Homo sapiens: one gene and its partners. The protein of the gene in region 3 interacts with the protein of the main gene of each other region in a pairwise test. Each region holds a gene or a part of one and is shown on either strand. Other genes may lie near its edges. The genes, in order: CCNL1, SAFB2 and SORBS3.

Region 1 (3,744 bases), on a different chromosome or scaffold from region 3:
CACAGTGGTGTGCCACTTATAGTCCCAGCTACTCAGGTGGCTGAGGTGGGAAGATCCCTTGAGTTCAGGAGTTCAAGGCCAGCCTGGGCAACACAGTGAGACCCTGGCTCTATAAACAAAAATGGAAGAAAACCAGAAAACTGGTGTCATCAATTGTGTTTAAGGAAACCGAGGCTCCTTTAAAAGTTTGTTATAAAATTATAGATATCTCATAAATATTGAGGTGGAAAGATTCCCTGGAAGCAGCCTAGTCAGAAAGTGAAGACAGTGACATCCAGATAGGTTAATACTTCTGCCAGCACCATAATTACACTCTCTTGGCTGTACATTCCAATCACTCGAAGACAGGCAAAACTGAACCACTGGCTGGGCCCACCTTAAATCAGTGACATCAACCTCTGCAGGCAAGGCTCAAGTATCAGTACATTTTAAAACAACTTTGCCCACTGAAGGTTCACTTAATCAACTGATAAGGCCGGGTGCGGTGGCTCATGCCTGTAATTCCAGCGCTTTGGATGCCTGTAATCCCAGCATTTTGGGAGGCCGAGGCGGGCGGATCACCTGAGGTCAGGAGTTCAAGACCAGCCTAGCCAACATGGCAAAACCCCGTCTCTACAAAAATACAAAAATTAGCTGGACGTGGTGGTGTGTGCCTGTAATCCCAGCTACTGGGGAGGCTGAGGTGGGAGAATCGCTTGAACCCCGGAGGCGGAGGCTGCAGTGAGCCGAGATCGCGCCACTGCACTTCAGCTTGGGCGACAGAGTGAGACTCTATCTAAAAAAAAAGAAAAAAAAAATCAACTGATAACAGGCGATTAACAGGAGAAAAGGGATACATAACACCGGGGTAAAAGCAGGAGGATGATTACCCAGTAGCTTAATGGAGTACAGAAGATTTTATATCTTTTTTTCATAGGGGAAAGGGTAGATGAGAAATGTAGACATTTATTTTGAGGAGCAGCAAATGATTATTAGGAACAATGAATGGACAGAAATTAGTAAATAATTTTCTTTTGAGTAATCTTGTGAAAAAGTCCCTCCAGGAATGGCTGCATTTCTGAGTCTTTTTGAAATAGGATACGAGATTTCAGCGAGGGGAGGAATGCGATTGATTCTTCTACAAAGAGGCTTCTCTAGTCAGGAAAGGAAATTTCAGAGAGTACCTCCCTGCACTTGGGAAAAGTGGGAGCAACAAGTCAAGGTTGGGGGACCTGCATTATGAGGCAGCTTCTAAAGCCTCTGTCTTTGGGGTATCGCTTTCTGAGCGTCAAGAGTAAAACGTGATGCATTCCTTTCCTTCCAACCTAGATTCTAGTAGTTTAGATCAGTATCATTGTTTTTACTTCAAGGTTCAGGAAACGCTGGAAATTGCTAGCTAATATCACAGGAAAAAAAACAAAAAACACGAGGTTGACCTCACCCTACCCGCGGTAGGTAACCATGTATGAATAGAGACTCCCAGGCATAATCAAATTACCTCTGTCAAGTCCTCGCCCTAAGACTATTTTTGGAAACTAGGGATTTTCCAGATTACTGAAAGCCGTGGCGGTGTCAAAGGCCGGGCAGGAGTTTCGCAAGCGGAGCTATGAAAGCAGCCACTCTCGCGGTCATTCCTATGCCTCCGCCCTACTTCCCCATACTGGCAAAAACACGCTCCCCGGGGAGCTTTCATTTGGGAACCGATAGGGTCCACAGCCCTGTGTTCTTCAAATACTGTAAAGCAGCCCTCTCCAGATTCCTTGAGGGTCACTTTATATTACACATTCGTCCACACAGGACAACAAAGTCACCACTTCCACCCGCCAAAGCGCGCTCAGGTCGGCCGCCACTTCCCTTGGTACACGCGGAACGCAAGCCGCGCCGAGGCTAAAGGAAGAGGCCGGAATGCAGGGCGAAGGGGCGCAGAGATGCTAGCCAATGCTGCCACCTCTATTTTGGGTATAAGGGATCTTGTAAAGCTCCGTTATTCGTGTGGCTATCACAAACAAGGTGGTTTCGACCGGCCTTGGCTAGAGAAGGCCTCCTCAGCCTCTGAGGATCCCAAGGTCTGTCGCAGCACCCAACACTCCCCTCGCAGGCCCAGATGCCGAGGGCGGAGGCGCGGCCTGGAGGGACTAGTTGGCGCGCGGCTGCCCGGCGTGGTGACGTCAGGGCGGAAGCGCACGCGGCGTGAAGCGGCCCAGAACCCGGCGGTCACGGGAATATCCGTCGCGCCGAGAACGCTGGTTAGTCTTGTTTCGGGTTCCGGCTGCGTTGGGCTTGCGTGCGGCTCGCTAAGACTATGGCGTCCGGGCCTCATTCGACAGCTACTGCTGCCGCAGCCGCCTCATCGGCCGCCCCAAGCGCGGGCGGCTCCAGCTCCGGGACGACGACCACGACGACGACCACGACGGGAGGGATCCTGATCGGCGATCGCCTGTACTCGGAAGTTTCACTTACCATCGACCACTCTCTGATTCCGGAGGAGAGGCTCTCGCCCACCCCATCCATGCAGGATGGGCTCGACCTGCCCAGTGAGACGGACTTACGCATCCTGGGCTGCGAGCTCATCCAGGCCGCCGGCATTCTCCTCCGGCTGCCGCAGGTCAGTGCTCCGGCCCCGGGCCGGCCGGGCGCTCCTCTCCTCTCCTCCGTCCCCTACGCCGCATCTCAGTATCACCGTGCCCCGGGAGGGTGGGGACGGTTCCTTCAGGCTTTCCCGTTCGGGGCCCAGCCGCGGCCGGGGCGTGCCGGGGCGGGGGGCTGCGGAGGCGGAGGGAGGACTTGGCAGCGGGCTGTTCGCAGCGGCGGCGGCGGCGGGAGGGGAAAGGGAAGCGATCGGCGGCACAAAATGGCGGCGGCGCCTGGAGCGGGCCCGCCTGACCCCTGCGCTTCCGTTCTCCTCTCTTGTCTGCAGGTGGCGATGGCAACGGGGCAGGTGTTGTTTCATCGTTTTTTCTACTCCAAATCTTTCGTCAAACACAGTTTCGAGGTAAGCACAGCGGAGGCGGGTAAAAGGGATTTCTTCATCCGGAAATGGGCAGAGTAGGGGTAGTGTCAGCAGCCAGCTTTTCCAGAAAGGGAGTGGTTTAGTTTAGGCCTTTGTACCTACTTCTCACTCGCCAGGAAGTGGAAACCTTTAGAATGTGGTTCAAAATCGATCACGAGCCTAAGTGCCCTCTTAACGAAAAGTACAGTTTTCAACCAAATGCAGAACTCCTGTAAGATTGAGTTTGACTCTGGAACCAAAATTAAGATGAGTTAAACAACAAAAAGTATAGTACTAGCATAGCTGGTAGACTTACGGCATAGAGATGTCTTCTCTAATTTTACTAAAGGTTGTCCCAATTGTGTTCTAAATTTTATTCTTCAAAGTGAGTTTAATCTAACAATGGCTTTTGTGGCTCATGGGTTCTTTCAGATTGTTGCTATGGCTTGTATTAATCTTGCATCAAAAATCGAAGAAGCACCTAGAAGAATAAGAGATGTGATTAATGTATTCCACCACCTCCGCCAGTTAAGAGGAAAAAGGTAAGATTGGCATTATTGAACATAGTATCTCTTGCTACTGCTGTACCGTGCACCAGTCATCAAATCAAAACATCTTTCCTTTCAAGTGAATACGGATGCAAAAGAAAACGGACTTTAATTTAGGTGTTAAAGTTCATATAGGAACACTGATACTTAAAATAATTTGAAAAAAGAAACATAATTAACCGGTTATCTAAAGTTTGTAGAGGCAGTTGCATTTATGGACAATCCTAA
Region 2 (3,744 bases), on a different chromosome or scaffold from region 3:
AGGGTTCGAGGCCAATGATGGGAGACCACCGGGATGGGCAGGTGAGTAGAGCCCCGATGCCAAGCCCTGGGGCCACTGTACTGCTGTGCAGGCATAGCGGACCATTTCTAGCCAGGCGGCCGCTTGATCCCAGAGAGGTGGCAACCAAGTCAGCACGTGTGGCGGGTATGCAAGTGTGGGTTCTGGCCAGCGACTAGAAGTACAAATATTTAGTCGGACGTGGTGGCTCATGCCTGTAATCCCAGCACTTTGGGAAGCTGAGGTGGGTGGATCACAAGGTCAGGAGTTCAAGACCAGCCTGGCCGACATGGTGAAACCCTGTCTCTACTAAAAATACAAAAAATTAGCCAGGCATGGTGGCGAGTGCCTGTAGTCCCAGCTACTCGGGAGGCTGAGGCAGGAGAATCGCTTGAACCCGGGAGGCGGAGGTTGCAGTGAGTCGAGGTCGCACCATTGCACTCCAGCCTGGGCAACAAGAGCAAGACTCCGTCTCAAAAAAAAAAAAAAAAAAAAAAAGCGCAAATATTTGATTGTTTTGTAATGCTCAAGTTTCTGTCATTTTCAAATATGTTGGGCTTGTTCTTCATTGTATCCGGTAGAAACCTCATGTGTCTCTTCATTGTCCACTTGCTCAGGGAGCCTTTGGGTCTTAGTGCCTGTGGGGTCCCCCAAGAACCCAAATGGTGGTTGTCGTTTAGCCCACATGTGCCAGGGTCGGGGGGATGGGGGAGCCCGGGCTTCCCCATGTTTCAAGTCCGTGCTTGGTGGGCACGGGGGGCTGAAGACCACAAGAATGGTCCCTGAGTCTCTGTGGTGCCATGCGGGTGCCCCGTGCGTGGTGGCAGGGTGTGAGTTCTGAGAAAGCAGCAGCCTGGTGGAGAGGTGGGAGGTGGGCGGCAGAGTAATGGCCTGTAACAGCAGGCAGCACCCGCCTGCTTCCTGGCTGCTGGCTGCTCCGTGCAGAGTTGGTTGGCCAGGGAGGCCGGAATTGTGGCCCTGCCAGAGCACAGGGGGGCTGACCCACCCGAGGGCCCTCCTGTTATCGGAAAGGAGGCGGCGCCCAACTTCTCAGGGAAGACAGGGTTTGGTGACGTCTTAGTGGATCTTGAGCAGAGCTGTTGAGGGCAGTAATGCCAGGGTGCCCTGGCTCCTGGGGCAGCTCAGGTGGGGCAGTGATGCAGCTGTAGGGGTGCGAGGAGGGGAGCCAGGGAGCAGAGGGTCAGTGAAGCAGGGCCCAGCAGGGCTGAGACTGCACCCTTCAGTCCTCTCTCAGCTCCGCCCCACCTGCCACCCTGGGGCCTGCAGTGGACAGGCCTTCCGGAAGGTGGGCCTATGTGGGTGACATGGTCAGTGTCACCCTGTTCCTCTCCTGCCTTCCAGCACTATGGAGATGACCGCCATGGCCACGGAGGACCCCCAGAGCGCCACGGCCGGGACTCCCGTGATGGCTGGGGGGGCTACGGCTCCGACAAGAGGCTGAGTGAAGGCCGGGGGCTGCCCCCTCCCCCCAGGTTAGTGGGTGAGCCCCAGCCGGGTGGGGAGCATCTGTCCTAACCTGGGAAAAGGTTGGTGCCTGGCCAGGCACGTCCCCAAGGTTTGATTCAGCTAGGGGAGCTTTAGGATGGGCTACCAGGGGTCCTGCCATTTGAAACCCCTGACTCAGAAAGTCCAGGTTCTCAAGAAGAAAGCATAGAACAGGCTTTCAGGGATGGAGCTGTCCAGGTCGCCCAGAATGGCCCATCCCCATTCTTGAGCTGGGGGTCGCCTGCAGTTGTGAATGTCTCGATCATGGGCTGCGTACACACTGGGAGAGACAGCGCTGAAGCTCTTAGTCCTGCCCCGTCCGTGGTAGAGCAGCCTCGCCCCTGCCTCCACGTTGCCTCTTGACACGTGTCTTCCTCGGGTTTTTTCTCTGACCCCCAGTTGGTCTGGGGTGGATCTTCTCAACCCTATCCTGCCTATTAGAATCACTTAGGAGGACCCTCCACCCAGGACTCAGGGCTGAGGACACTGGGCCAGGTCCTCCACAGGTGTCCAAAGCCACCTTCACCAGCACTGCAGTGGGGGTGCTGTTCTGAGCCTTGTCAGCATTGGTGGGGGGCAGGGCTTGTCTGGGAGGACTCTGGGTGCCTCTCTAGTTTCTTTGGCCAGCTGCAGTCACCCCTGCCTGTTTGTCCTGTTGCCGTCTGGGCTGGCCGTGAGGAGGCTGGTGGCAGGACTGCTTTGCGGCTGCTGCCCTGCTTTCCTCTGTGAGCCGAGTGTCCTGTCTTGTCTCCAGCCCTGGCCCAGGGCTGCCTCGGACCCTGCCCAGCGCCACAGGGTGGGTTTTGGCCCCCTGTGCTCCCCCGTTCCATCCCTCCCTCCGCGCTGAGAGGCACTTCCAGCTCTGCCAGGGACTTTGACTCGGTGCTGTGCCGAGTGTCCCAGGACACCCGAAGCTTCTCCTGAATCTCTGGGCAGCACAGACGGTGGCAGTGCTCTGATCAGTTGGTGTGAAGTGTTCTCTCCTGTGAGACTTCATTAGCATTCCTGTCCTGTCGCTTGCTGGGTGTTATGGTAAATACCTCGGGAGTGTAAACGGGAAACTCACCCATGGTGAGCAGCGGCTGGGCGCCATCGGGTCACCGAGGGCAGGTTCCACACGGGAGCTTTCCGCTCCCTCCAGGGCGGTATTGCACTTGCCTGGCAGTGCGCGCTGGGGGCTCTGGTGGCCCCTCTCGGGCCTGTGGGCTGGCTCACTTGGCCTGACTGTCACTGCATCCGGCAACCCACAGCAGGCAGGCACTCGTGCAGATGGGTCTGGCTGCTTTCCTGCACGGCCACTGTGACTGCTTGGCCACTTGGGACTCAGGACACTGGACTCGGATTTTCATCTCCCAGAGTTTGTCTGAAACTTTAAACAAATAGCTTTCTTTAAGTATAGTTCACACGACACACACTTCCCGTTTCACGTGTGCAGTCAGTGGAGGTTTGCGTGTACGTGGATCTGTTTAGCCATCCCCACGGCTGATTCTGAAGCATTTTCATCACGTCAAAAGAAACCCTGCCCCTTTTAGCAGCTGCACCCTCCCCCCTGCCCTTGGTAGCCACAGGTCCCTTTCTGGCTCTGGATTTGCCGTCTTGAGTCATTTCTTGGCCTGCGCGGTGTGCCTGCTGGGCCTGGCTTCTCCCTAAGCCTTGGGTATTCAGGGCTCATCTCCACATGCTGCCTGGGCCAGCGCTTCCTTCCTAGTTAGGGCTGAACATTCCATGGTCCAGACACACTACATAGTGTTATCTGCTCATCAGTTCATGGGTGTTGGGGTCCTTCTCCCTTTGGCTGTTAGGAATCCTGCCGCTAGGAACATTCATGCACAGATGTCTTTGGCCATGTTTTCATTTCTGGCAGGTAGGAATGGGTTTGCTGGGTCATGGTAATTCTGCGCTTAACTTTTTGAAGAACCACCAAACTTTTCCACAGTGGCCACACCATTTTACATTTCCACCAGCAGTGGACAAGGGTTCTTCCCTTTCCTCGCACCCTCCACGGTGTGTGTTATTGTGTGATTCTAGCATCCCAGCCAGGGGGAGGTAGCATCTCGGTGTGGCTCGGATTGGCATTTCTGGGTGGCGTTGAGCACCTTCTCACGTGCTTACTAGCACATCTGTCTTTGGGGAAATGTCCCTTCCCTTGATTTGCCCACTTGACATGCAGCCCTTGTTGTGTGGCATGACCCACCATGCAGCTGAGGTCAGGGTGGGTGC
Region 3 (3,744 bases):
TTTGTCAGCTCTGCTGCACCCTCTACACTAAATATTTATCTTGGAGTCCAGGTCAGAGCCCTAGAGAATAAGAGAAGCTTGCTGCTGGTGAGGGGGTATGGCCAGGATTCCTGGAGTCGGAAGAGCTTCAGCTTCACCATCTTGGGAGAAGAAGGAAGAAAGTGAAAGCGATGTGGTCCTTCTTAGTCCCAAGGACCCTGACAGGTGGGAAAAATGCGTGTCTAAGAAAATGGGCACCTATTTTATCCCTGAGGGAGGGAAGAGGCTACCTGGCGTGGATAAGAAGGTTTCTAAGCTTCAGGTTGGGGGGCAGTGCACTGCTGCGTCCCTCAAGAAGTGTCCCAGGGTTCCCCCACTGCTCAGCTGTCCTCCACAGCAATGCCCCTGCCATCCCCATCTCTCCGCCTTCCTGGAGAGTCAGAGGTTCTTGGAAGGAGTCTTCAAGGTCATCTTGTTCAGCTCCCCGCTCAGTGCAACAGTTGCCTTTACATAGATGCCCCACAACTGGCAGACTCAGAACCCCTGGAATCATGTAAAAATTTGTCCTGGGAAGCCTTGGACCTGCTTCCCTATGACGTGTCCCCCAGTGGTCCCACTGCTGCTGGTGCAGCTGTGTGTCCACATGGCAGCCCCGCAGGCGCTAGAGGCCAGCAGGCCTATCTGAAGCTTCTCAACCCAAACATCTCCTCCAGCTTTCACATGTGATGTTTCAAGGCAACGGGGAGAGCTTCTTTACCAGAACGAGGGAGAAGATAAGACTAAAGCAGTAATGGTGGTAGGGACTGAAAATCACTTAGTCTTTTCTCTACTCTCTTTCTTTCCAAACTTTGAGTTGAGTGGTGAGCTTGGAAAACACTCCAAAACTCCTCGTGGCCTCTGGCACCAGTCTGACACCCAGTAGGAATGCAGGAGATTACGTTAGTTTTCATAATTTAGCATTGATCACTCCCAGCTCGTAGCTAAAGTTGATCAGTAACTGTTGGTTGGTTGGCTGGTTTGGGGCTTGGGGATCCCTGAGCCAACTCAAGGGCCAGAAAGGATTCCAGAGTGTTTCCACGGTCCTTCAATGTTCCTTAAGCATTCCCACTTTCTGAAGTGCCATACAGAGGCTTGGGGCAGAGACAGGGAGAGGGGATGACCAGAATGGATGGGGAGCCGGAAGGGCCGGGGCTCTGGGGACCCAGCTCAGAGCAGCGAGAACAGCGGAAAAGCAGGCAGATCAAAACAAACACAGTGTCTGGGAACACCAAGACCCTCCTAATCCCATCCCCGCCAAAGGGACCCCACCCTTATCCTCTTTAGGGGCGCGGCACGCCCGGGGGGGCCGCTCCCTTGGGCTGATTTCCTCCCTGTGCTTGCACGTGTGTGAGCGTCCCCACGTTTGCAGTGTACGCGCGCGTGTTTGTTTGCACACGACCGGCCGCGCGCCGCCGCAGGCACACCCTCTCCCCCAGCGCGGAGGGGCGGCGGGGCCTTCCCCTGGTCCGCTCCGCCACTCTGCCTGCGGGGCGCCCTCATCTCGCTCCCGGCCTGTCCGTCTCTCCCGGCTTGCCCAGTTCACCACTCCTGCCCCCTTGTCCTGGCTCCGCCCGGTTCATCGCTCCTGCCCCTGTCCTGGCTCCGCTGCGAGGCCGCTCGCTTCCCACACTCTGGAAATGTCGCTGGAAACTCTGAGTGGCCCGTGTCGGGCCGCCCGACCCCTCCCCGACGCCAGCCCTGCGGTAGGGGCCGGGATGGCAGCTGGGAAACCAGAGAGGGCTCCCCGGGGACCCTCGGCGGCCCCTCCCGGCGCCGCCTCCCCGCCGGCCAGGCCTCCTCGGCAGGGGGCCACCAGTGTCCCCGCGCGCGCCCCGACGGACGGAGAGCACTCGCACGTCCCTCCTCTCCGGCCCAGCCCCGGCCCGCAGTCCAGATCCGAGACCCAAACTCCGCCCGCCCCGCCGCGCGACTCTCACGGTCCGGCCTCCGGCGCGCGCCCCTTCGGCCTCCCTCTTCCTGCGCCGGCGCCCGGCCCGGCCCGGCCCGTCCTGACCCGGTCACGAGGGCCGCGACGGCCCGCGCTTCTCCTTGCCCTTCCTCCTCGAGCGCCCGCGCCAGGCAGCAGCCGGGCAGGGATGCTCCTGCGCTCCCGGGCGGCCTCGGGCCCAGCCACCTGCTCGCCGGGGAAGGTAGGTCCGGGCAAGGAGGGGCGGGGAGTAGGCGAGGCCGGCGGGAGGGATCCGTGCCCAACCCCAGGGAATCGCACCTAGCCCCTCCCCGGGGTCCGCGTCCCAAACTCTGGGAAGTACCTCCCACCAGCCCTCATACCAGAAAAAGCGAAATTCAAGAAAAGCTGTCCTTGTCCACGTGGCCTTGTCGCTGAGAAATACCTGGGAAAGCTCTTAGGGCCAGGCACCCAAGGTCAGGGCAGTGTTCAGAGCAGGGAGGCCAGTGCCCACCCCAGCAGAGCCGCCTCCCCTCTCCCGCTCCAGGGGCCTCTCCCCGCTCCCGGGGCTGGCTGCCTGCCTGGAGGGGAGGTCTGAATTCTGGGAGGACCCCTCCGCTCTCTGCTACATGGGGGACCAGTCCCCAGATGCTGCCCTCTTCCTTGTAAGTCCTCCCTAAGTCTCCTGACCTGGCTGCCAAGAGAAGGACTCGGACCACCCTTCCCTGGAGGTTCCTGTGGTGGGGGGCGACACAAGGGGCAGGGTTGAGAAGGGGCAGATGGGGGCACCAAGGGTAAGCAACCTCTGACTACGGGTCGTGGGGGACCTCCTGCCCTACCCATCCTCCAAGAGAGCAGTTCTCACCGAGCACGAGGTGGGCGGGGAGGTCAGGGAAGGAAGGCGCTGTCAGCTGATGGCCCAGGCGGCAGCTGCTGAGCTGCAATTTGGCCCGAAGCAGTCAGCTGGGCAGGGAGGGGTGCTGCGAGGAGCCGACCAGCTCCAGGTCTCCTGACCTTCCACCCCACCCTGCCTCAACTCCCCCCCGCAAGGGGAGGTGGAGTGTGGGGACTGGGGTGTGTCTGCCTGTTTTGCTTTGGTGGGAGTCCTAATTGGACCCAGCTGGGGAGCTGCTCCTCCTCCAGCCTCAGCCCTCCACTCCCCCCAGTCAGGCATGGGCACAGAAGAGCTGTGTCGCAGCAACTCAAATGTCAGGAGTCCCCACAAACTCAAACCAGAGACAAGGAGCTGCCCCCAGCCTTGGCTACACCCTCGCTAGCCCTGGGCAGGAGCTGGGTCCAGGGGCTGAGTCATCCCAGCCTTATTCTACCTTCATCCCCTCTGGGCCCCCAACTCTTCCACTGCTCACATGACTGCACCTCCCACCACTGTTCAGCTGACACCCCTCTGTACCCACAACCCCCATGCAGCTCATGTGGTCCCTCCGGTGGTCCCCCCAGAAGTCATATTCGCAGCTCTGCACCCAGATTCCAACACACACATACACACAGCTCCTCCCGATGCATTTGCAGCCCTCCCTGAGAGCCCCCAAGGACCCCACAGGCACAGGCAAACCTGATTCCATCCAGTCCTGGGCAGTGGCAGAGCTTGGCTGTTTCTGGTCCAGTCCAGCAGCCAAGACGCGGAGGGATGGACGCCGTAGCACCGTGCTCTGGGTCAAAAAGCCCCCTTGGACACCCCAAACTGGGAGCCCCTTTTTGTCCTCTTGCACCCCCACTCTGGGCTCCCCTCTTGCCCCTCCATTCCCTGGGTGCCTAGGGCTCCCTTCCCCTTCCCCAGCCTTGGGATGAGGCAGAAGAAG

Evidence for each region.
Region 1: the proteins of SORBS3 (region 3) and CCNL1 interact in binary tests that used the Homo sapiens proteins (3 or more experiments, as listed by UniProt).
Region 2: the proteins of SORBS3 (region 3) and SAFB2 interact in binary tests that used the Homo sapiens proteins (3 or more experiments, as listed by UniProt).

What each region holds. Positions count from the first base shown.
Region 1 is NC_000003.12:157,158,632-157,162,375, reverse strand, and holds the start of CCNL1 (cyclin-L1), read left to right. Parts: upstream 1-2,228; 5' UTR 2,229-2,281; coding exon 2,282-2,584; intron 2,585-2,896; coding exon 2,897-2,971; intron 2,972-3,400; coding exon 3,401-3,510; intron 3,511-3,744. UniProt on the Homo sapiens protein: Involved in pre-mRNA splicing. Functions in association with cyclin-dependent kinases (CDKs). Inhibited by the CDK-specific inhibitor CDKN1A/p21. May play a role in the regulation of RNA polymerase II (pol II).
Region 2 is NC_000019.10:5,588,045-5,591,788, reverse strand, and holds part of SAFB2 (scaffold attachment factor B2), read left to right. Parts: coding exon 1-41; intron 42-1,380; coding exon 1,381-1,511; intron 1,512-3,744. UniProt on the Homo sapiens protein: Binds to scaffold/matrix attachment region (S/MAR) DNA. Can function as an estrogen receptor corepressor and can also inhibit cell proliferation.
Region 3 is NC_000008.11:22,549,855-22,553,598, forward strand, and holds the start of SORBS3 (vinexin), read left to right. Parts: upstream 1-2,072; 5' UTR 2,073-2,168; intron 2,169-2,307; exon of another isoform or gene 2,308-3,744. UniProt on the Homo sapiens protein: Vinexin alpha isoform promotes up-regulation of actin stress fiber formation. Vinexin beta isoform plays a role in cell spreading and enhances the activation of JNK/SAPK in response to EGF stimulation by using its third SH3 domain.